Homo sapiens: one gene and its partners. The protein of the gene in region 1 interacts with the protein of each later gene in a biochemical or structural test. Each region holds a gene or a part of one and is shown on either strand. Other genes may lie near its edges.

Region 1 (7,027 bases):
CTCCGATCCTAGGACCCTGAGGCTCCTCTGATAGTACAGTCCTGGTTCAGTTGGTCCGTTAGATTCATTTACACATTTAACAACTGTTTTAGAGCACTGTGCAGGGTTACAGCAGTAAACATCACAGTGTCCATCCTCATGAAGTTAAGGTTCTAGTGGAGAAGGCAGAGAGTAAATCAGGTAAGTAAATGCAAAAATAATGTTATAGGTTATGATCATTTCTATGAAGAAAAATAAAGTAGGCTAAGGGGAGAGGGAGTAACACTAACAATGGTGGTCAGGGAAGGCTTCTCTGAGGAGGTGGCACAGAAGTAGAGACGTGAAGGCAGGCAGGGAGTAGGCCATGCAAACACCTGCGGGAAGAGCTTGCGAGCAGAGAGAACAGAAAGTGCAGCGCCCCTCTGGCCGAAGCAGGCCTGTTTCAGGCAATAGCAAGGGGGCGGTGGGGCCGGACTGAAGAGGGAGAGTGTGGAAGATGCGGGGCAAAAGGTTCCCAGGAGCCTCAGCAAGCAGCATCTGGAAGGCCCTGGCAGGCCCTGACTCTGGGTTTTAGTCAACGTATGATGCTAGGCTATGGGAGGGTTTTAAGCAAGTGAGCAACAGGTTCTAATTTATATTAGGTTGGTGCAAAAGTAATTGCAGTGTTTACTGTTAAAAAAAAAAAAGGCAAAAACCACAATTACTTTTGCACCAATCTTGTATTTTGAAAGCTTCATTCTGACAGCTGTTCTGAGAACCAACTTTCACATTTTTTTTTCTTAAGAGGGAGACAGGGTTTCCCTGGAGTGCAGTGGCATGATCGTAGCTGACTGCAGCTTCGAACTCCTGGCTCAAGCAATCCTCCTGCCTCCACCTCCCGAACAGCTGAGACTACAGGCGTGCACCACCATGATAGGCTAATTTTTTTGTATTGTTTATAGAGATGGTGTCTCGCCATGTTGCCCAGGCTGGTCTTAAACTTCTGAGCTCAAGCCATCCACCCGCCTGAGCCTCCCAAGTGCTGAGATTATAGGCATGAGCCACTGAGCTCAGCCAGGATATATTTTAAAGGCAGAATCAACAGGATTTGCTCATGGTTATGAAAGGAGGGAAGAGAAGAGACAAGGAAGAGTCAGGTTTTTGCTTGAGTTGCTGAGTGAACTGCACTGCCACTTAGGGAGATGGGGCTACCAGTGGAGCAGGAAGAGGCTGAGAGGACAAACCAAGAGCTCTCTGCTTTTGACACATGACACTGAAGATGCCTGCCAGACGTCCAAGAGGAGGTACTACGTACACGGCTGATTCTGCAAGTCTGGAACTCAGGAGAGTCTGGGACTGGACTAGAAAAATGAATGTGAGGGCTGAGGAGGTAGAGCTGGTATGTGAATTCATGGCAGAGACAAGATCGTCTTGGAGTTAATAGACAATGTGTAGACTGAAATGTGTTGCTAAAAAATGAATTCAAACTTTTTGAATTTTTACTACTGAAATATAATATGTACAAGAGTCTGTATACATAATGTGTAAGTATGGTTTAAATAATAAAATGAACATCATATACCTACGATCAAGCTGAAGAAACAGTACAATCTCAGAGCCTTTGAAGCATGTAAATTTTCCCATTGGACCTCGCTCTCCCCATCCTTCATCCCCAGCAGTAACCTAAATTCAGGGTTTGTCATAGTTTTGTGCTTGTAACTGATCCTTTAGGAAACAACATTTGTGGCCAAAAAACATCTAACAAAAACTCAGTAATTTCTTCAGACTTACTTTAGGGTTTTGTTTCCCTTTCGGGTTAAAGTAAAATTCAGTTTTTGTCTTTTAGTGCTGCCCAACGGAAATATAACGCAAGCAATATGTAATTTAAAATTTTCCAGTAGCTCCATACGTAAGGGGGAAAGACATAGATAAAATTAGGCTGAATAACATATTTTATTTAACCCAATATACCCAAAGCTTTCATTTTAAATTGTAATCAATATAAAAATCACTAATTGTCATAACCACCGACACAAAGCATGGTTTTAAAACATACCTGTTGGAGGAGCCCTGAGTCGGAGTCTAAAACACAGGCATCAATCAAAATATTCTAAAAGAAACATTTTGAAAATATTACAGGAATAATAACAATAATGATTACCCTATACTGAGAACCTACTACATGCCATACTCTATGCTTAAAATAGCTCACTCAATATGCAACGTGACTCTGCACGGCAGATATTTGCATTTGGCAGCTGAAGCACCCAGGACATGGCTGGGCTGTGGTCACAGAGCCAGCGGGTGAGAAAGCTGTCACCCCACTCGGCATGTCTCCAAAGTCCAGGCTCTTTTCACTACATCATGCTGCCACTCCACAACAGAGAACATTATGCATGGCTATAGCAGCATTTTACATTAAAACTGAAATTTTAAGGAGGTTTTCTTTCTTCATAAACACACCAAAGAAGAAAATGTATTATACTTCATCTGAACATTTCAGCTCTTTGCAAAGTAAAAATACTGAATTTTTACAGCTTCGCCACAGCAACAAGATAAAGAAACTGATGCAAGGTTTATACAGCAAACTGTCAAACCAGGGATTCTTGGCATGGGGTCCAAGGATGGGCTAAAGGTTACCTGAATACCATGAAACTCTATGCAAAACTGTGGTTGAGTGCATATTGTTTTGGGAATGCATCAGATTCTCAAGTGGTCCAGGACCCAAAATAGAGAAAAGACTAGAACATAATACAGATTCTGGATTCCTTGCCCATTCATAAGCCTACGTAGTCAGAATACCTCAGAGTAGAGCATTCAAAAAATGAAATTGACTCCTTCGTTATGAAACAAATACTTTAAACGGCAGGCTCTCAGTTCACCTGTTTCTGTGCTGCAAAGATGACATTCATGAAGTTCATATACTGCAACGCACTGTCTTCTGCAGCCTTAATCACCTAAAAATCACAGTCATGTTAATTCCACCCAGGCACATGCCAGTCCTCTCACACCAATGTCACACAATATACTGCGAACCACAACCAACATTATTCCAGTTTGTCTTCCCATTTATCATTGTTAAATGATACCTAAAGTATAAAGATGACAGTAACATTTCCCCCGAAATCCCGCTCCACGTAACGGTTTGATGAACTCATTCTGGAGAGCACCTACATGGGCAGGTATATACATGCACACCCAAAACACAAACACACACATACACAAAATAAACACATACGCACATATACCCAAAATACACACACGCCCCCAAAATACACACACCTACCCACCCAAAATACACACATGCACCCCCAAAATACACACACACACCCAAAAATACACACACTCCAAAATACACACCCAAAATACACCCATACCCCAAATACACACACCCCAAATACACATACACCCAAAACACACACATATACAAAATACACACACGGACATACACCCAAAATACACAGGTAAGTACACCCAAAATACACACACACACAACCAAAATACACGTACCCCAAAAGTACACACACCACTAAATACACACACCCAACACACACACACAACCAAATACACAGCCCCAAAAAATACACATCCAAAACATACCCCCCAAAATACACCCCCCCAAAATATACACACCCCAAATACACACATAAAACAAACACAAACCCAAAATACACCCAAAACACACAAACACACCCCAAATACATACACACACCCAAAACACACACACATCCAAAATATACACACATACACACATCCAGAATACACACACATCCAAAATACACACACTCACACGTATCAAGATGATTACTTAGCATTCTGCAACCTGCTTTTTCAGTCCACAATATATGTGGGAAAAAATATTCTAATGTCAATGAATTATAATATATACTATGCTCCTTGCGGACTTCATAAATTTCCACTATTTAAGCAGTTTCCAGTTCTCAGTTTTAAACAATACCCTGATGATACCCTCATATACCATCTGCACAGCTCTCTAATTACCTCCGGAAAATAAGCAGTGATTACTAAAGTATATGAACATTTAATTTTGACACAGATTACCAAAATGCACCCCAGAAAAGATTTTTACCAATTTATCCTCCTATCAGCAACCCATGAGAATAAGCAATCCCCAACATCACCATCAACCCTGGGAACTGCCAGCTTTTTCATTTGTGCTAAGCAACAAACAATGAATATCTCGTTACTTGGCACTTCTTTTTTTTTTTTTTGAGACAGAGTCTCGCTCTGTTGCCCAGGCTGGAGTGCAGTGGCGCAATCTCGGCTCACTGCAACCTCTGCCTCCTGGGTTCACGCCATTCTCCTGCCTCAGCCTCCCGAGTAGCTGGGACTACAGGCGCCCACGACATTTTTTGTATTTGTACTAGAGACGGGGTTTCACCATGTTAGCCAGGTTGGTTTCGATCTCCTGACCTCGTGATCCACCCGCCTTGGCCTCCCAAAGTGTTGGGATTACAGGAGTGAGCCACCGTGCTCAGCCTTGAATTTCTTTTTTAAATCTCCCCACCCTGCCAGGAAAAAAAAAAACCTCCCTGATATTCTGACTGAGATTGTAAATTGAATTTACAGTGTGATTTTGGGAAAACTGACATCCAAGAACAAAATATGGCTCTCCACTTATTCTTCTATCGCTCTCAGAATTTTAGTTTTCCTTATCATCAGTTTTACACATTGCTTGTTAAATGAATCCTGGATAGTTAACATTTTTTGCTCCTACTATAAATGCGTTTTATTTCCCATTATGTTTTCTTTTTTTTTTCTTTTTGAGACGGAGTCTCACTCTGTCACCCAGGCTAGAGTGCAGTGGTGTGATCTCGGCTCACTGCAACCTCCAGCTCACTGCAACCTCTGCCTCCCAGGTTCAAACGATTCTCCTGCCTCGGGATCCCAAGTAGCTGGGACTATAGGCATGCACCACCACGCCCAGCTAATTTTTGTATTTTGAGTAGAGACGGGGTTTCACCATGTTGGCCAGGCTGGTCCCGAACTCCTGACCTCAAGTGATCTGCCCACCTCGGCCTCCCAAAGTGCTGGGATAACAGGTGTGAGCCACCACACCTGGTCTCCCGTTATGTTTTCTAATTATAGTTGTCATATAAAAAAGTAATGATTTTTTTATCTTACCAATATCCTTGATTTCATTTCCTGATTGTCTACAAAGAGAAAAAAGCAGAAAAAAATTTAACTAAATCTTACTAATCATATATGGTTTCCTAACCAATTTTTAAACAGTCTAGTAAAGAAATACTAGTAAAATAAGTAGGATTACAGTTCTCATAGGAAAACGTAGGCTCTTACCTTTAACTTCCTTGTTCATTCTATGAATGTCTTAATTTCTTAACATTAAGGAATACAAAAATATTATTTTGCTTCATAAATATTTATAGTAAAAAGAAAAATAACCTCCAATTTTAAATAAACCCAGCATCTACCTAGCTAAGAAGGGAAATGCTCCACTCACCAAGATAAATACACAAGAGTGATTGGGGGTTTTCAGTTCCTAACTCTGCAGTCAACTGGACTTTGTAATCTCACCAAAATATAATCTCTGTCCCAGAAAATTAAAATTCCCAACACTTGACTGTCCTATTCTTACCTACCATGTCCTAAATTTGAATCCTGGGACAAGTACTGATTTACAAATATGTTCAGGCAACCCACATCAAACTCCAGGACAAAATAATCACTCAATACTGCCCCTCCTCCAAAAAATTAATGCCATAAGACTGAGAAAACGTCACACAGATAAAATGAAAAGGTATTGCCCTATGCAAAACAACCCGTTCACCTATGGAGAAGGAGCCACTCATTTATTAAGCTTCAGGGCTCCTAAATGGCTTTTAAAAATCAAACACTGTTCCCAAGTCAAGAAGAAAATGAAAATGTTTAAAAAGTCTGAATTTATCAAAATAAGAAACAAGAAAGCACCCTGAAGCAGTGTTTCCTGAAGGCAGAAAGACATAATGGAGAAGCTAGAGTTTTCTCACTCTTCCCCACTTCCAGTTTTTACAGCTTATCTTTTTTTCTTTTTTTTTTTTTTGAGATGTAGTCTCGCTTTGTCGCCCAGGCTGGAGTGCAGTGGTGCGATTTCAGCTCACTGCAAGCTCTGCCTCCCAGGTTCACGCTATTCTCCTGCCTCAGCCTCCCTAGTAGCTGGGACTACAAGTGTCCGCCACCACGCCCAGCTAATTTTTTTGTATTTTTAGTAGAGACGGGGTTTCACTGTGTCAGCCAGGATGGTCTTGATTTCCTGACCTCATGATCCGCCTGCCTCGGCCTCCCAAAGTGCTGGGATTACAGGCATGAGCCACCACGCCCGGCCTTTACAGCTTGTCTTAATAAACATTTCAAAGCCAGCCACACACTGTGGCCTGTAATCCCAGCACTTTGAGAGGCCGAGGTGGGTGGATCACTTGAAGTCAGGAGTTAGAGACCAGCCTGGCTAACTTGGTGAAACTACATCTCTACTAAAAATACAAAAAAAATTAGCCGGGAGTGATGGCGGGTGCCTGTACCAGCTACTTGGGAGGCTGAAGCAAGAGAACTGCTTGAATCTGGGAGGCGAAGGTTGCAGTGAGCCGAGATTGTGCCACTGCACTCCAACTTGGGCGACAGAGTGAGACTGTCTCAAAAAAAGAAAAAAAAATTCAAAGCCAATGTAAACTATTTTTTAAAAAATTACCCTCCACTTCAGAGTACTCACATGTCCCAGTAATGGGCACCCAAGGTCCTAAGAAATGTCACAAGTTAAGATATGTTTATTACAGAAGACACCTTCTAAATGATTCAGACACCAAGGATACAGCAAAGGGCTTTGGCCAGGGATCCTGCCAGCAAAGTTTCTGTATGTTGACCCTTTATGTCACCTGCAAATAACAGAAAACATTAAAAGGGAATTTTTAAGTACTTTCTTGAACTAAAATCATTGGGTGCTTTATTGAACTAAGTATGCTTTCACACCAAAGCATTCTTCATAAATGAAATCAAACAAGACATTTTCAAACTAGGTTTAAAAACATAGCAATGTGTTCTTGGTAATGGTTAACTA
Region 2 (7,027 bases), on another chromosome or scaffold:
TTCAATACCTTTTTCTGTAAAATGAGGTGATAAAAGCATCTACTTTCTAAGGTTCTGAATAAAAACATATAAGATAATGTCTATGAAGAATCGACTAGAGTAGCTGGCATAACAGAAAATCAAAACATGGCTCTTTATCTCACTCAAGGTAAAAGCCAAAAGCTTTGCAATGGCCTATAGGGTCCCACATCATCTGGAATCCTTCCTGATCATCTACCTCTTACTTCTTTCCCCTGCTCATTCTTGTCTAGCCACAGTAGCCTCCATGGTATTCCTTGTACATATCAGACACACTCCTACCTCAGGGCCTTTGCATTACCTGTTCCCTCTGCCTGGAATATTTTTCCTTTAGGTACTCACACAGCTAACTCCCTTCCATCTTTCATGTCTTTATTCAAATGTTACCTTTTAAATGTATCCTATCCCTACATTCCCAATGCTCTATTTTTCCCCCATAGCACTTATTTCCTAACATAATGAATAACTTACATCTATTGTCTTTGTCACCCCCTTTCCAAGGATGTAGGTTCTACCACAACAGATATTTATCTTGTTTATTCATGGATATATCCCATTTACCTAAATAGTACCTGCCACTCTGTTAGGCACTGAATAAACATCTGACAAATGAGTGAATAAATGTGAGTTTTATTTTCATGAAGCAAACTAAGCATACTTAAAACTCTTTATAAAAAAAGAATCTAATTTTAGGAATGAAGCTTCTCTCACCACACACCTCCTATCATTTTGTGTACATATCTTACCTGATATACTGCAGATGAAATATTTAAGAAAACCATCTGCATTCTGCATTCTGATACTACTACCAAACATACTGCCATTTAAAATACATAAAAAGATTAAAAGTATTGTTTGGAACCTGACTCCCTGATTCAAATCCTAACACTATTTAGCTGTATGATTCTGGCCAAGTTATTTCATCTCTCCGCTTCAATTTTCTCAAGTACAGAAAGGGGGAAAATAGTATTTACTTCACTAGATTACTGTGGGGATTAAGTGAATGTCTGTGAAGTGTCTAGAATGGGCCTGGCACTTAGAATAGTGTTATCTATCATCATCGTCATCAAGAGAAGACTCAGAAATGGTCAATTCTGACTATGGATAAAGTGAAAGCATCTTCTCATTAACACATTAAAATGAATTAGCTAAATCCCTGGACATTTTAGAAGGCACAGAACTCCTAAAATGAGATACTGAGCAGATAAGAGAGAGAAAGGGAAACAGAAGCAGACAAGTTAAAAGTTTAGGTCAGAGAAAAGAGGCTTTTGATAACATGACTGTCAAAATGAGAGTTAAAATCAAACTTAACTACTTCAAAATATTGTCAAAGGCTGAACCTCCTCCTTAGAGCTTACTGCCAATGCAGCACTACAACAGAAAGAAAAGAAGGTAAGGAATGCATGCAAGCCTTTAAGACAATAATTGCTTCTAAAAGAATGTTCCAAATAGTTTAATAATATCAACACAGTATTTTGATTAATGTTTAAGTATTAAATTAGGGAAAAAGAAAATTAGTTTTGTAAACTAAATTAAGTCACACGTAACAGATTTCTGACAAGGGTCTTGAGAGGTTTGGAGAAAAAAGAATTATTCTGTTACAGATGAAGACAGAAAACAAAAAACAAGGATAAATGAGCAAATTTCTGGATGGTAAAGTAGAAACAGTGGTTCTAGGAACAGCCTTTTTCAACAGAGTTATAAATTACAAAGAAGATGTATACTGGGAAACTATATTCACGGAATTGATGCTAAGCAATTGTGGGTACTGAAAGGCCAAGTTGCAGCAAAAAAATATAGGAAGAGCTGAAGGTTGTATACGTGGGCAGAAAAGTAGCAGATCTATTTCTATTTCAGCAAGTGCAAGAAAATCAGCCTGCAGAAAAATAATCTAAAATATACTGAAAGATATGATCCAAGCTATTGGATTCAAGGCACAGAAGAACCTAAAAAGTACCTCTACGTGTTTCTAGAAGTTTTTGGTCTTAACATGCTTCCAGAACCAAAGCAACAAACAAAATCTCAAGTAAAAACCAGAAAGATACTGGAAATAAAACTCAAATCAATGGTGAATCCATGCATGAACAACATGTATCATTCTGGTCACTATGTCTCAAGTAAAGTATATTACAATTAGAGATGGTCCAGAAAAAGACAAAAATAAACAAAAACTGTAGGAGGTGGCAGCAGTGGAAAAGAGAACTGTTTAAGGAAAACAGAATCAAAAGGAATTAGAACTTTCTTCAGTATAGTAATGAGAACATGATTGAAGTCGATACAATTGTGAAAGATATCAACATGACTTGAAGTTTGAGGAAAATCAAGTGTTAAGACCCACTTCATACATTCACTGGATAGAGTCTGCTCTACTATCAAGAAACTTAGGATAAATTCAGACATGACAACATACTATCCTATTTTATGCAGAAATAAATATTTACAAAACTTAAGTAGACCAGATAACTTATTTAAGGCCCATATGATTCATATTCTATCATTTTAGGAACTGTAAACTAGAATGTTAAACTTATGAGCTTAATATATAATGTTGGTTAATAATAATTTTATTTTATTCAGTTTTCTTCCTAAGTTCAAAGAAAAGAAGGCTGCTTTAAGAACAGGCAAGAAGCCAAGTTGGGGAAAACAAATTTATTAAGTAGTAGTATAGCCTAACTACTGTATAATCTAAAACAACTTCAATCTAAATAACACAACAGGCTGGGCACAGTGGCTCATGCCTGTAATCCCAGCACTTTGGGAGGCCGAGGCAGGCAGATCACTTGAGGTCAGGAGTTTGAGACCAGCCTGGACAACATGGCAAAACCCCGTCTCTACTAAAAATACAAAAATTAGCTGGCCATGGTGGCTTGCGCCCAATTCCAGCTACTCAGGAGGCTGAGGCAAGAGAATCACTTGAACACGGAAAGCAGAGGTTTCAGTGAGCCAAGATCGCACCACTGTACTCCAACCTAGGCAACAGAGCGAGACTCCGTCAAAAAAACTAACATGGCAGGCTAATCAGTGAGGAAGAAGGAGGGTAAAGTATGGTTGCCTTGGAAAACCTTTTCTTATTAAAATTAATATATCAAAGAGAATCACAGTAGAGGTATTAGCTGCTTTACCATCACTACCAAACTCCACGTTACCTTCACAATTTCTAGTATATACATATACTAAATGCTAATTATGAAGGGAAAAGAGGCTAGGAGAAACGCCAAAAAACAAGTGGTTTTCAGCTACTGATTATTCTTTGGCACTAACATATCACCAAACTCACGTGATATGTTAGTAATGATATATTAACTTGGGAGTAGCGGCACATTGATTGTTACACTGATAAAATTCAGCAAGAAATAGAGACACCCTTCCTCTCTACTTTCCAGCTTGAGTCATCGTCATCCATTTTTGCCTCCCATTTTCTACATACTCCTAAACCATCATCACTCAAAGTCTTGAATGCAGTAACTTAGACTAAAACTTAGAAAGTAAAATCTTGCAGTTCTCTAACTTCCGAAGATTAGTATGCAATTCTTAACCCTTTATGCCTCAGAAATTTCCAAAATCCTCTAGAACAAAGTTCTGCTAACCGTCTTGGACTGTGAGAATGCTCAATCCTTTATTCATGTGGTCTCTTTGTATCTATTTCAGGTAGCATACACTCCTTGGTATTTATGAAGAGAAAACATAAAGTTTGGGGTAGCGTATAGTTTTGGCTCCCAATTCAGAAAAATTAAATGCATATAAGTCAGGGTAATATAAGATTAAAGGAAAGGTGAGTATGGCTACCTTGAAAACAACAGATAGCATTTTTCCAAGAAATTAAGATAAAAAGATGACAATTTTTCAAATCTAAAAATGAAAATTTAAAAGGCTATTTGTTATTTTCACTAAGTTGAAGGGCAATGGAAGTATACTAGTTGGTTTTTATCTTATTGTTCAATTTCTTACTTCCTAATATAATGCAATTAATTGTTCTGTAGAACAGATCCAGAATTGCCCAGGCAGTTTCCCACTAAGCCAAGTTCATGTTCTACAGAACCTAAGACACATCCATTTTACTGACTTCTACTCTTACCTTCTTTCATATCTTCAGAACCATATGCCCCTTGGACAGTGCTTTCTCTCAACCAAATAGGCCTCTCTTTGGCAGATTTCCCTTCCAGTGAGGCTCGATGAAGATCTTCTTGGTCATCCATGTTAATGACAACATTCTGAGTGTATAAGTCTTCATAGGAAGGACCTTTGGTGGCCCATGCTTCCCGGTGGTGCCCACCTGCTAGGCTAGCAGCTCCAGCAGTAGTTGCTGCATGGTCCTTGCTATATAAAAAGAATAGAGGAGTACAGGAAGAAGAAAAATTAATGTCTTGGTGTTGGAAAAGAAGGGCAGCTAGGGAGGCAATTACTGAAATACTACATGTAAATGCTACCTAGCAATCATGCACACATGCTTTAACAATTCCAAGAAAGTGCTTCTATACCTCAGGGTAAAAGTTGTATGCGTTAGAAAAACACATCATATTTATATTTAAGTTCCTCAAACATGGGATCCTCTGATGTATATAAATGACTGAGGTTTTATAGATTTAAGATGTTTCAATAAATCTATTAATACTTGGAGAAGGAGAAAGTGATATGGTGACATCATCTACTTAAAGCCACTAGTCTGACAAAAATCTCTCCCAGTATTTTGTTTAAAAAACAAAAACAAAACACATTGTATTTTTAAAAATGTTATCTCAGCTCAACCCAGAACAATTCAAAGTGGTTCTGTGTGCTTTTTCCTTTCTTTTGTGTGCTGATCATGGAAAAAGCTAGAAAACTATTCTACAAAGCCTGACCTCAACCAACGTTCTTCTCCCACCACTCATGCAGTAAGGTATAACCCTCTGCACAAACTAGCTGCTTTTCTATGTAGTTGTATGTTTCTATCTCCACATCTATGCTGATACTCTGTATCCATCTCCAACCACTGATTCTACTCTGCAGTAACAATGGTCTGTTTTTCTCAGTCTATTTTATTTTGCTTTTTACTTTTACCACCCACGATCTTCTTTGTCTGTTAGCCTGTTCCATGTCTGATCATTTCCTTATCTTCTAGTCACTTAAGTTCCCCCCAACCTCTGTGTTAGGCCAAGTTTTCAGTATTTCTGATGGTTCCCCATTTTATCTGCCTGTTTCACTCTCAATCTGTTCCAAATTCTTTCGAATATGCCTGATTCTCTGTCTGAGCTCATGCCTTTCTCTGCCTGCTACTGATGCTTTCCACTTCAACTTCTACGTATGCTTCTCCACCTCCCGCTCTGTCCAGCTATTTTTTATCCTGTAACCATCTTCATGTTTCTTGAACTGCCTGCTCACTCCAAACCTTTTGGGTGTTTCTTTCAGTGTCCATGACTGACCTGGTCTCACGTTTCTCCTTTATTTTTCGTCCGTTTTTCTCACTCTTTTCCATGGATCCTGAATTATCTCCTGTGTGGAGCCCCGACTCATTCTGAATCTAATAAATACTTCATTAGTCTTTCCTCCTAAGCCATTCACTATTTTGCCTTCACTTTTGTCTTACTTCATCTCTGCTTACTCCCTTACTCTTCACTTGTTCTGGGTCCACTTCTTATCTACTGGGGTTTTCTAACTCATACTTAGCTGAGGTCTGTGTCCGTGTATCTGATTAGCCCATCACATCTTTCCCTAAATTACACTGTGTTTCTGACCATCCTCTGGAGGTAAACTTGGGCTTAGCTCATCCCACCTATCCTGTCCTGCCTCTGGATATCTATAGGGCCATGCTACTTGTGCAACAAAAAAATAATGTTATCTCCAGTTGCCCAGTCCACACTGATCCAGTCATTTAATCCATGCCTTCCAGGTACTGCGTTTGCATACTTTTCATTATTCCACCTCTGTGCCCAGGGCTACTTTGTAAACCACTTTCTCCCACAGCCTTTTTCTTCCCGGTGCCTGTTCTACCTGTTCCATGTCTCAATCACTTCTTTTGCCTCCTCACTGCTCCTACTTTCTACCAGTTATTTGCTCTCCACTCTAAGTCTAGACCTATGAGGCATCTCTCTGTAAATATATCCAATCCATCTATTTTTTTTTTTTTTTTGCTATATTCTGAAGTCTTATGCTACAATTGCACATAACTGGTTTCTCTCTGCTATTTCTTTCTGCATTCATTGATGTTACTTTGTGTATCATTTCTTGTTCATCTCAATTTAACCATTAACTGTCCCTAGTCATTCTCTATCTTCTATCTGTTCTGTGTGGTCTTTTAAAGGCTATGTGGCTGCCTTCACTGTAATATGATGCTGCTTACTTTGTATAGGTTGGCTTTTCGAACTTTTCTCTTCTTCAGCATTCACTTTACTTTCTCTTTTCTCTTGGTCTGATCTGGTTTTTTATGTTTCTGTGCTTATTCTACATTCTGGCCTCTCCTCTCACACCCATTTGTCTCTCTGACTCCTTTCAATGCCTCTTCTATCCTCAGCCAACATCCCCATCTTGATGTGCTGAGCCTGCTCTATATATCTGCCACCCCAAAATGTTTCTCCCTGAGTTAGCTAAACCCACCTGGGAGAGACAGAATAGGCATATTTCTCTGATCTGGCCAACCACATCCTTATCTTTCCTTGATTCAGACTTAAATGACTCACTCACTCTGAGGTTACTGCTTCTCTTTATATATAATCCTGAACACAGAGTTTTTCTCTATTCTCTATCTTTAGCATTGACTACAAAGACTGTCTTATGAAGGTATGAGGAGTACTTTGAGAAAAACAAGAAAGCTAGAGAGAAAAGAACAGAATTAAAATAAATGTTAACACAAGAGTACTTTTAAAAAGTCTTTTGTTTTTAGTATTCTGTCATAGAAATTCAAGATGGGTTTTATTCTAGTTTGAGGCAGCAGACATTTGACCATAAGTCAAACAAATTTTAAAATTTGGAACAATTTTAATTGAAGATGACAAAAATGACAATTCATGTTTGAATCTTTTTATATTATTTAATA
Region 3 (7,027 bases), on another chromosome or scaffold:
TTCACTATATTGCCCAGGCTGGTCTAGAACTCCTGGGCTCGAGATATCTACTTGCCTCAGCCTCCCAAAGTGCTGGCAACACAAAAGTGAGCCACCATGCCTGGGTCAAAACCTATGTTTTAATACTCTGTCCATTATCAGCAGCCAACCTTGAAAAAAAATATAACCATGGTCAGGTCACTTAGCAACTTAGCTCTTCATCTATTAAAAAATGAGGAGGCCGGGCGCAATGGCTCACGCCTGTAATCCCAGCACTTTGGGAGGCCAAGATGGGCAGATCACGAGGCCAGGAGATCGAGACCATTCTGGCTAACACGGTGAAACCCCGTCTCTACTAAAAAAATACAAAAAATTAGCTGGGCGTGGTGGCGGGCACCTGTGGTCCCAGCTACTCGGGAGGCTGAGGCAGGAGAATGGCATGAAACCAGGAGACGGAGCTTGCAGTGAGCAAGAGATCGCGCCACTGCACTCCAGCCTGGGTGACAGAGCAAGATTCCATCTCAAAAAAAAAAAAAAAAAAAAATGAGGGACTGGATCTCTTCCAGTTCTAAATTTCACAAAGTAATATGGAGTCCTTACAGCACCAACTGCTGGAACAAGTGAAGGGAATAATATATAGCAAAAAGATGGGATAAAACAGTCAGCTATAAATTCATTGTTAAACAATTTACATATTCAGACCACTATGTACCAAATTGGCTATATAAAACTTGACTAGTATAAAGAAGCAATATTAAAAACCTTACCCTATGTAGGATCCAATGTTGATGTAAATATTCTAATCCTTGAAGAGTCATCAACATGTAGGCTTTGATGTGTGATGGTGTCAGCACAAGACTATTATCCTTTATTATAACCTGTAAAGCAAGTATACAATATACAGGTACCCTTTATTATTTCAAATAAACTCTACCACATAAAACAATTTACAGACTTAAAATGTAAGTATCAATACAGGAGACTCTCAAAAGAGGTTATCTAAGTTTCCTCAGGAAGCCCTGTCAAAATCTCCAGAGTTAGATGGGTAGGGAGAGCATTTCTGGTTTGAAAAGAAAGCAGTGCTTTGTCCTCTACTGCTTTCGCATGAAAGTAGCAAACACCTGTTGTTTCTGCTTGCATCTTCTGACAATAGCAGTTAGTGTTCCTTTGGGAAGCCATCTCTTCTCAGCTTAGTCCACATGGTTAAGGTAGGACTGAGTCAACCTAAGGCCTCCAGAGGTAGGCACATGACCCAGGCATCCCCATTATCACACTGCAGTCTCCTGGCCAAGTGATTGGTTCAGGGATACAAGACAAGTCAATCAACCAGGCCAAGTACTTGTGCTAGAATCAAAGAAAAGAAAGCACTTTCGTTCCTCAGGTATTATTAAACTCTACAAACATATACCTAGAAGCATCTGGAACACCATATTGAGAACTGTACACATGAAGAATGCAACAGAGAAGAAAATGGAGCTTAGTTAAAGCGTAAGACTGAGTTTTGATGGCATTATTTATGAGCTGTGCCTAATGTCAGTTTATTCTAGATTTATCAGTTAGGAACTAAAAGTTCCCCTTTTCTTTTTTTAAAATCAGATTTAAGGTAAAGCATACCCTTTTTAGTGTATAGTTCCATGAGTTTTGACAAATGCATCCAGTCATGTAACCACCACTATAATCAAAGCATAGTTCCGTAACCTCCCCAAATTCCCTGAGGCCCCTCTGTACTTACTCCTTTCCTTTACCCCAAAGCCCCCATAACCGCTGATCTGGTTTCTGGTTCCTTTCATTTTGCCTTTTCCAGAATATCATATAAATGAAATGGTTCAATACATAGTCTTTTTAGCCTGGCTTCTTTCACTTAGTATAATGCATTTCAGATTCATCTATGTTGCTGCATTTATCAATAGTGTGTTTCTATTCCTGAGTAGTATTTCAGTTTGTTTGTACAGTTAGAATGAGGGATGTTTGGATTGTTCCAGTTTTGATAATTATTAATAAAGCCAAACATCTGTACCAACTGAATTCTGGCATACGTTTTTGTTTCTTTTTTTTTTCTTTTTTCGAGATGGGAATCTCACTCTGTCACCCAGGATGGAGTGCAATGGTGCAATCCATAGCCTAGTGGTGAGTCCATAGCCTATTATGATAGGTCCTTCCAGGATCAATACCATTAGTATTGTGATCTATAACAGCATCACTAATATTGTGATCGATACCACTAATCAATAATCTTGTGATCTAGCAATACCACTGCTAGGTATTTATCTAAAAGAAAGAGGCCGGGCATGGTGGCTCACGCTTATAATCCCAGCACTTTGGGAGGCTCAGGCAGGTAGATCGCCAGAGGTCAAGAGTTTGAAACCATCCCGTCCAACATAGTGAAACCCCATCTCTATTTTAGCTGGGCATGGTGATGGGCGCTTGTAATCCCAGCTACTCAGGAGGCTGAGGCACAAGAATTGCTTGAACCTGGGAGGCAGAGGTTGCAGTGAGTTGAGATCGCGCCACTGTACTCCAGCACGGGTAACAAAGCAAGACTCTGTCTCAAAAAAACAAAACAAAAACAAAAACAAACAAAAAAACTTGGCTTTCAAAAGAATGACATTACTCTGATTATATGGAAATAAGTTTCTTTATTTTTTAATATAATTTGTAAAGCTGAGACAGGATCTATGGGGTCCAGGCTGGTCTTGAACTCCTGGGCTTAAGCAATCCTCTTGCCTTGGCCTCTCAAAGTGCTGAGATTACAGGCGTGAGTCACTGCACTGGCCAGAAATAAATTTTAAATTCTTATAGGTTGCTAGGCATGGTGACTCATGCCTGTAATCCTAGCACTTTGGGAGGCTGAGGCAGGCAGATCACTTGAGGTCAGGAGTTCAAGACCAGCCTGGCCAACATGGTGACACCCCGTCTCTACTTAAAATATAAAATTTAGCCGGGCGTGGTGGCACCTGTAATCCCAGCTACTTGGGAGGCTGAAGTGAGAGAATCACTGGAACCCAGGAGGTGATGGCTGCAGAGAGCCGAGATCACGCCATTGCACTCCAGGCTGGGTGAACAGACTGAGACTCCATCACAAAAAAAAAAAAAAGCAAACAAATCTTATAGGTCTAATGCTCATTTCTCCAAAAATGACGTCAACTAGCTATGGGAACTTAGAAGGCAGAAATGCCAATGAAATCCAAATCTTTGTATGTAACACTGGGGATATCACTAAATGATTAGAAGAAAATAACTAGAGATCCTTTTGCCTCAGAGTACATCCAAATTTCAACAAAATTAAGCTTTTTTTCTTTTACTACCAGTATCTTCTTGGGTAGAAAACAAATATTTAGGTTCTTGTTTGATAAACTGGGACAAAGGAATTTCTCCAGGAATCTTAATCTTACCTCTAGATCAGTTTCCATAAAATCAAAGACAAGGCTAATATTAGATTTATGTCCAAAAGCATCAAGGAGCTGCAAAGTTAAAAAATTAAAATGTGATTCACTATTTAATACCTGACAGTATCATAGCAACTGAGGCAATTTTTAAAAATTTAAAAAGCATTTAAACTGTTGGTAATTCCCTATAAAGCTTAAATCATTTGATTAAATTTGACATTTGTCCTTTTTTGGACAGTACTAAAGGAATTAGTATTTTGAAGCATAAAAATATTAAATTTTACTTAAAAAAATACCCAACCTCTTTCCCCAAATATTTGGAGTTAGAATTAAGAAATTAACCAATGAAAACCTCATTCCAGTCTCCAATTCAAAAGAAAAGTCCCAAATGTGATTCTTAAGAAATCCTCTAAATAACAGCAGCTATCATTGAATGAATGAATACATTTTCTATGGTAGGCACTATTCCAGATACTTTACATCTATTCAATTGGCTAGTCTCACAACTTCCCTATGAGGCAGGGACTCTGGGGAGTTGTGAGTGAACACACTCAAGGTCTCACACAGGCAGAAAGAAAGGTTTTGAATTCAGGTTGACACTCTCAGCCACTACATGCTAGAGCTCCCTAGACTTCAAAATTATTTCCGACAAAATTAGCCTACATGTCAATATTTCATTTATTTAATCAGTGGTATAGTTTTGAAGACAATGCCTACCAAAACAACTGGGATAGAAAATGTATTTCCTTTAAGCTTCTACAAGGCTCATCCAGAACAAGTCATCTTGCTGAGCCTTTAATCAACATCCATTATATTAAGAAAAGGCAGAGTCCCAAATCCCAGTAACAGTTTTGATCATACTCACACCAATTATATTTGGATGACTTAGCTCCTGTAATAATTTTATCTCTCTTAAGGCGGTTCTATTTATACCTATATAAAAAGGCAAAGCAAAAAGTGAATAATTCTGAAATCTCAAACCTTACAAACACTTCTTTTTTTTTTTTTTTTTTGAGATGGAGTCTCGCTCTGTCGCCCAGGCTAGAGTGTAGTGGCGTGATCTCGGCTCACTGCAACCTCTGCTTCCCGGGTTCAAGCAATTCTCCTGCCTCAGCCTCCAGAGTAGCAGGGATTACAGGCACGCGCCACCACGCCCGGCTAATTTTTGTATTTTTAGTAAAGGCGGGGTTTCACCATGTTCATCAGGCTGGTCTCCAACTCCTGACCTCGTGATCCACCCGCTTTGGCCTCCTGAAGTGCTGGGATTACAGGCGTGAGCCACCACACCCAGCCACAAACACATATTTTTAAAGAAAGGTTAGTAATCTCAGAAAATAGTGAACATTACCCACAAAAATAAGGGCTACTTTGACAATTTTTATGTCAAATCTGTTGTTCTTTTACATTGCTTTATTTTTATTTATTTATTTTTTTTGAGATGGGGTTTCACCCTGTCAGCCAGGTTGGAGTGCAGTGGCATGATCTCGGCTCACAGCAGCCTCCACCTCCCAGACTCAAGTAATTTTCCCACCTCAGCCTCCCGAGTAGCTGGGACCACAGGTGTGCACCTCCACGCCTGGCTAATTTTTTGTATTTTCGTTAGAGATGGGGTTTTGCCATATTGGCCAGGCTGGTTTCGAACTCCTGAGCTCAGGCGATCTACCCACCTCACCCTCCCAAAGTGCTGGGATTACAGGCGTAAGCCATGGCACCAGGCCAATATTGCTTTACTTTTAAAATAGCTTAACAAAGACTACGACAAATGGTGAAAAATATTTCACCTTATCTATACCAGGATCTGAACACCACTACTAGACTAACAACATATATAAGTGTGCAGCATATAGGTGATAAGCTTCCCTACTCTTGCCCTACAAATATTAGTGGCATATTGTTTGTGCTAAAAGCAAACTAGTGATAAGATAGTATATTTTCCAATACAAATGACAGATTTCAAAATTAAAAATTAGATACAGGCCGGGCGCGGTGGCTCGTAATCCCAGCACTTTGGGAGGCCTAGGTGGGCAGATCACTTGAGGCCAGGAGATCGAGACCAGCCTGGCCAAGGTGGCAAAACCCCATCTCTACTAAAAATACAAAAAATTGGCTGGGCATGGTGGTGTGCACCTGTAATCCTAGCTACTCAGGAAGCTGAGGCAGGAGAATCGCTTGAACCCGGGAGGTAGAGGTTGCAGTGAGCCGAGATTGCGATACTGCACTCCAGCCTGGGCAACAGAGCATGACTCTGTCTCAAAAAAAATAAACAAAATAAAAATAAGATATAGTATTGGCACTTACACAGACAATGGGTCTCTTTTGTAAGAGCTATTTTATGATGAATCCTAATAAATAAGACTTTGGAAGAAAGTTTAATGAAATAATTTCCTCATGTATCTATTCCATAGTAAGCTTTATGTACTTTCATGAAAATGTATCCTGAATTTTCAAAGTAATTAGAAACTCAGAAACAGAAAAAACAATGGCTTGTAACACCTAAAACAGTAATGAAGACAGAAAGACAAACTAATTAAGCTTGCTGCCTTCCATTTATGTGGGTGATTTGGAATGTTTCTCTGAATATCCAGTAAGTAAAAATCACCAAATACTCCTTCTCTATGCTGAGTCTATCTTTACTCTTCGGGGACCCTGCAGTAACTCTATCCAGAACCATTACTAACTTATTAATTCATACTTTGCTCGTTTCTTCAGTGAGAATGAAAACTTTATGCTGGGCATGGTGGCTCAAGCCTGTAATCCCAGCACTTTGGGAGGCCGAGGTGGGAGGATAGCTTGAGGCCAGGAGTTTGAGAGAAGCCTGAGCAACACAGCCAGACCTCATCTCTACAAAAAATAAAACATTAACCACAAGTGGTGGCACATGTTTACAGCCCTAGCTACTCAAGAGGCTGAGGTGGGAGAACTGCTTGAGTACCTAAGTTTGAGGCTGCAGTGAGCTACGATTGTGTCTCAGTACTCCAGCCTGGGTGACAGAGCAAGACCCTGTCTTTTTAAAAAAAAAAAAAAAAAAAAAAAAAAAAAAGGAGAAAACTTTTCCTATCTGTCAGATTACATGAAATACTTACCATCTTTAGCTTCTGATCTATGTCCAAGTTTGATCTGGTAGAAACGGAAAAAAACCCAAATATATTAAAAATGTGTTAAATTATTTAGAATCAATGAATAATGTGTAAATACTTCAAATACTTCGCCACAGAAAAAAAAACAATTAGCAACCAATATGTACCTACTAGGCAAAAAGAGAGTAGGAATCATGATCAGAAAGATAAAATTAACAATATAAGAGAGAATCAAATACCTACCCTTGTCCCTTAAGTTTCTGAACTACACATTCAAATAATAAAATTAAGAAAAATCTATTTTACCTTTTCAAGGTTCAATGTGGACCAAATAACTAAGGGTACCCTGATTAAAAATAAATACGTAACTTCAAATTAGGCTACTTGGGAGGAAAGATACAGAAAATAACATGCTGTAGAGTTGGTAATAAGCCCAATAATATGCTCTTAGACACCACATTTTTCAAAAAGCAAAATTACAAATTGTGATGGTTAAAATGTTGTTACTCTGAATAAACATAACAAATTACATTAACAGGTTTAGTCTTACACAAAATAAATTACCTGGGTAAAGAACATTCTCTC

The links. Proteins that work in one complex are often made in the same cells at the same time.
Region 2: the proteins of GTF2H3 (region 1) and GTF2E1 form a complex in vitro, tested with the Homo sapiens proteins (one study listed by BioGRID).
Region 3: the proteins of GTF2H3 (region 1) and CDK7 form a complex in vitro, tested with the Homo sapiens proteins (2 studies listed by BioGRID).

Annotation. Positions count from the first base shown.
Region 1 is NC_000012.12:123,650,812-123,657,838, reverse strand, and holds part of GTF2H3 (general transcription factor IIH subunit 3), read right to left. Parts: intron 6,846-7,027; coding exon 6,783-6,845; intron 5,316-6,782; exon of another isoform or gene 5,308-5,315; coding exon 5,278-5,307; intron 5,133-5,277; coding exon 5,104-5,132; intron 2,916-5,103; coding exon 2,841-2,915; intron 2,069-2,840; coding exon 2,015-2,068; intron 1-2,014. UniProt on the Homo sapiens protein: Component of the general transcription and DNA repair factor IIH (TFIIH) core complex, which is involved in general and transcription-coupled nucleotide excision repair (NER) of damaged DNA and, when complexed to CAK, in RNA transcription by RNA polymerase II.
Region 2 is NC_000003.12:120,773,731-120,780,757, reverse strand, and holds part of GTF2E1 (general transcription factor IIE subunit 1), read right to left. Parts: intron 4,336-7,027; coding exon 4,094-4,335; intron 1-4,093.
Region 3 is NC_000005.10:69,251,873-69,258,899, reverse strand, and holds part of CDK7 (cyclin-dependent kinase 7), read right to left. Parts: intron 6,483-7,027; coding exon 6,449-6,482; intron 4,299-6,448; coding exon 4,231-4,298; intron 3,441-4,230; coding exon 3,372-3,440; intron 858-3,371; coding exon 747-857; intron 1-746. UniProt on the Homo sapiens protein: Serine/threonine kinase involved in cell cycle control and in RNA polymerase II-mediated RNA transcription. Cyclin-dependent kinases (CDKs) are activated by the binding to a cyclin and mediate the progression through the cell cycle.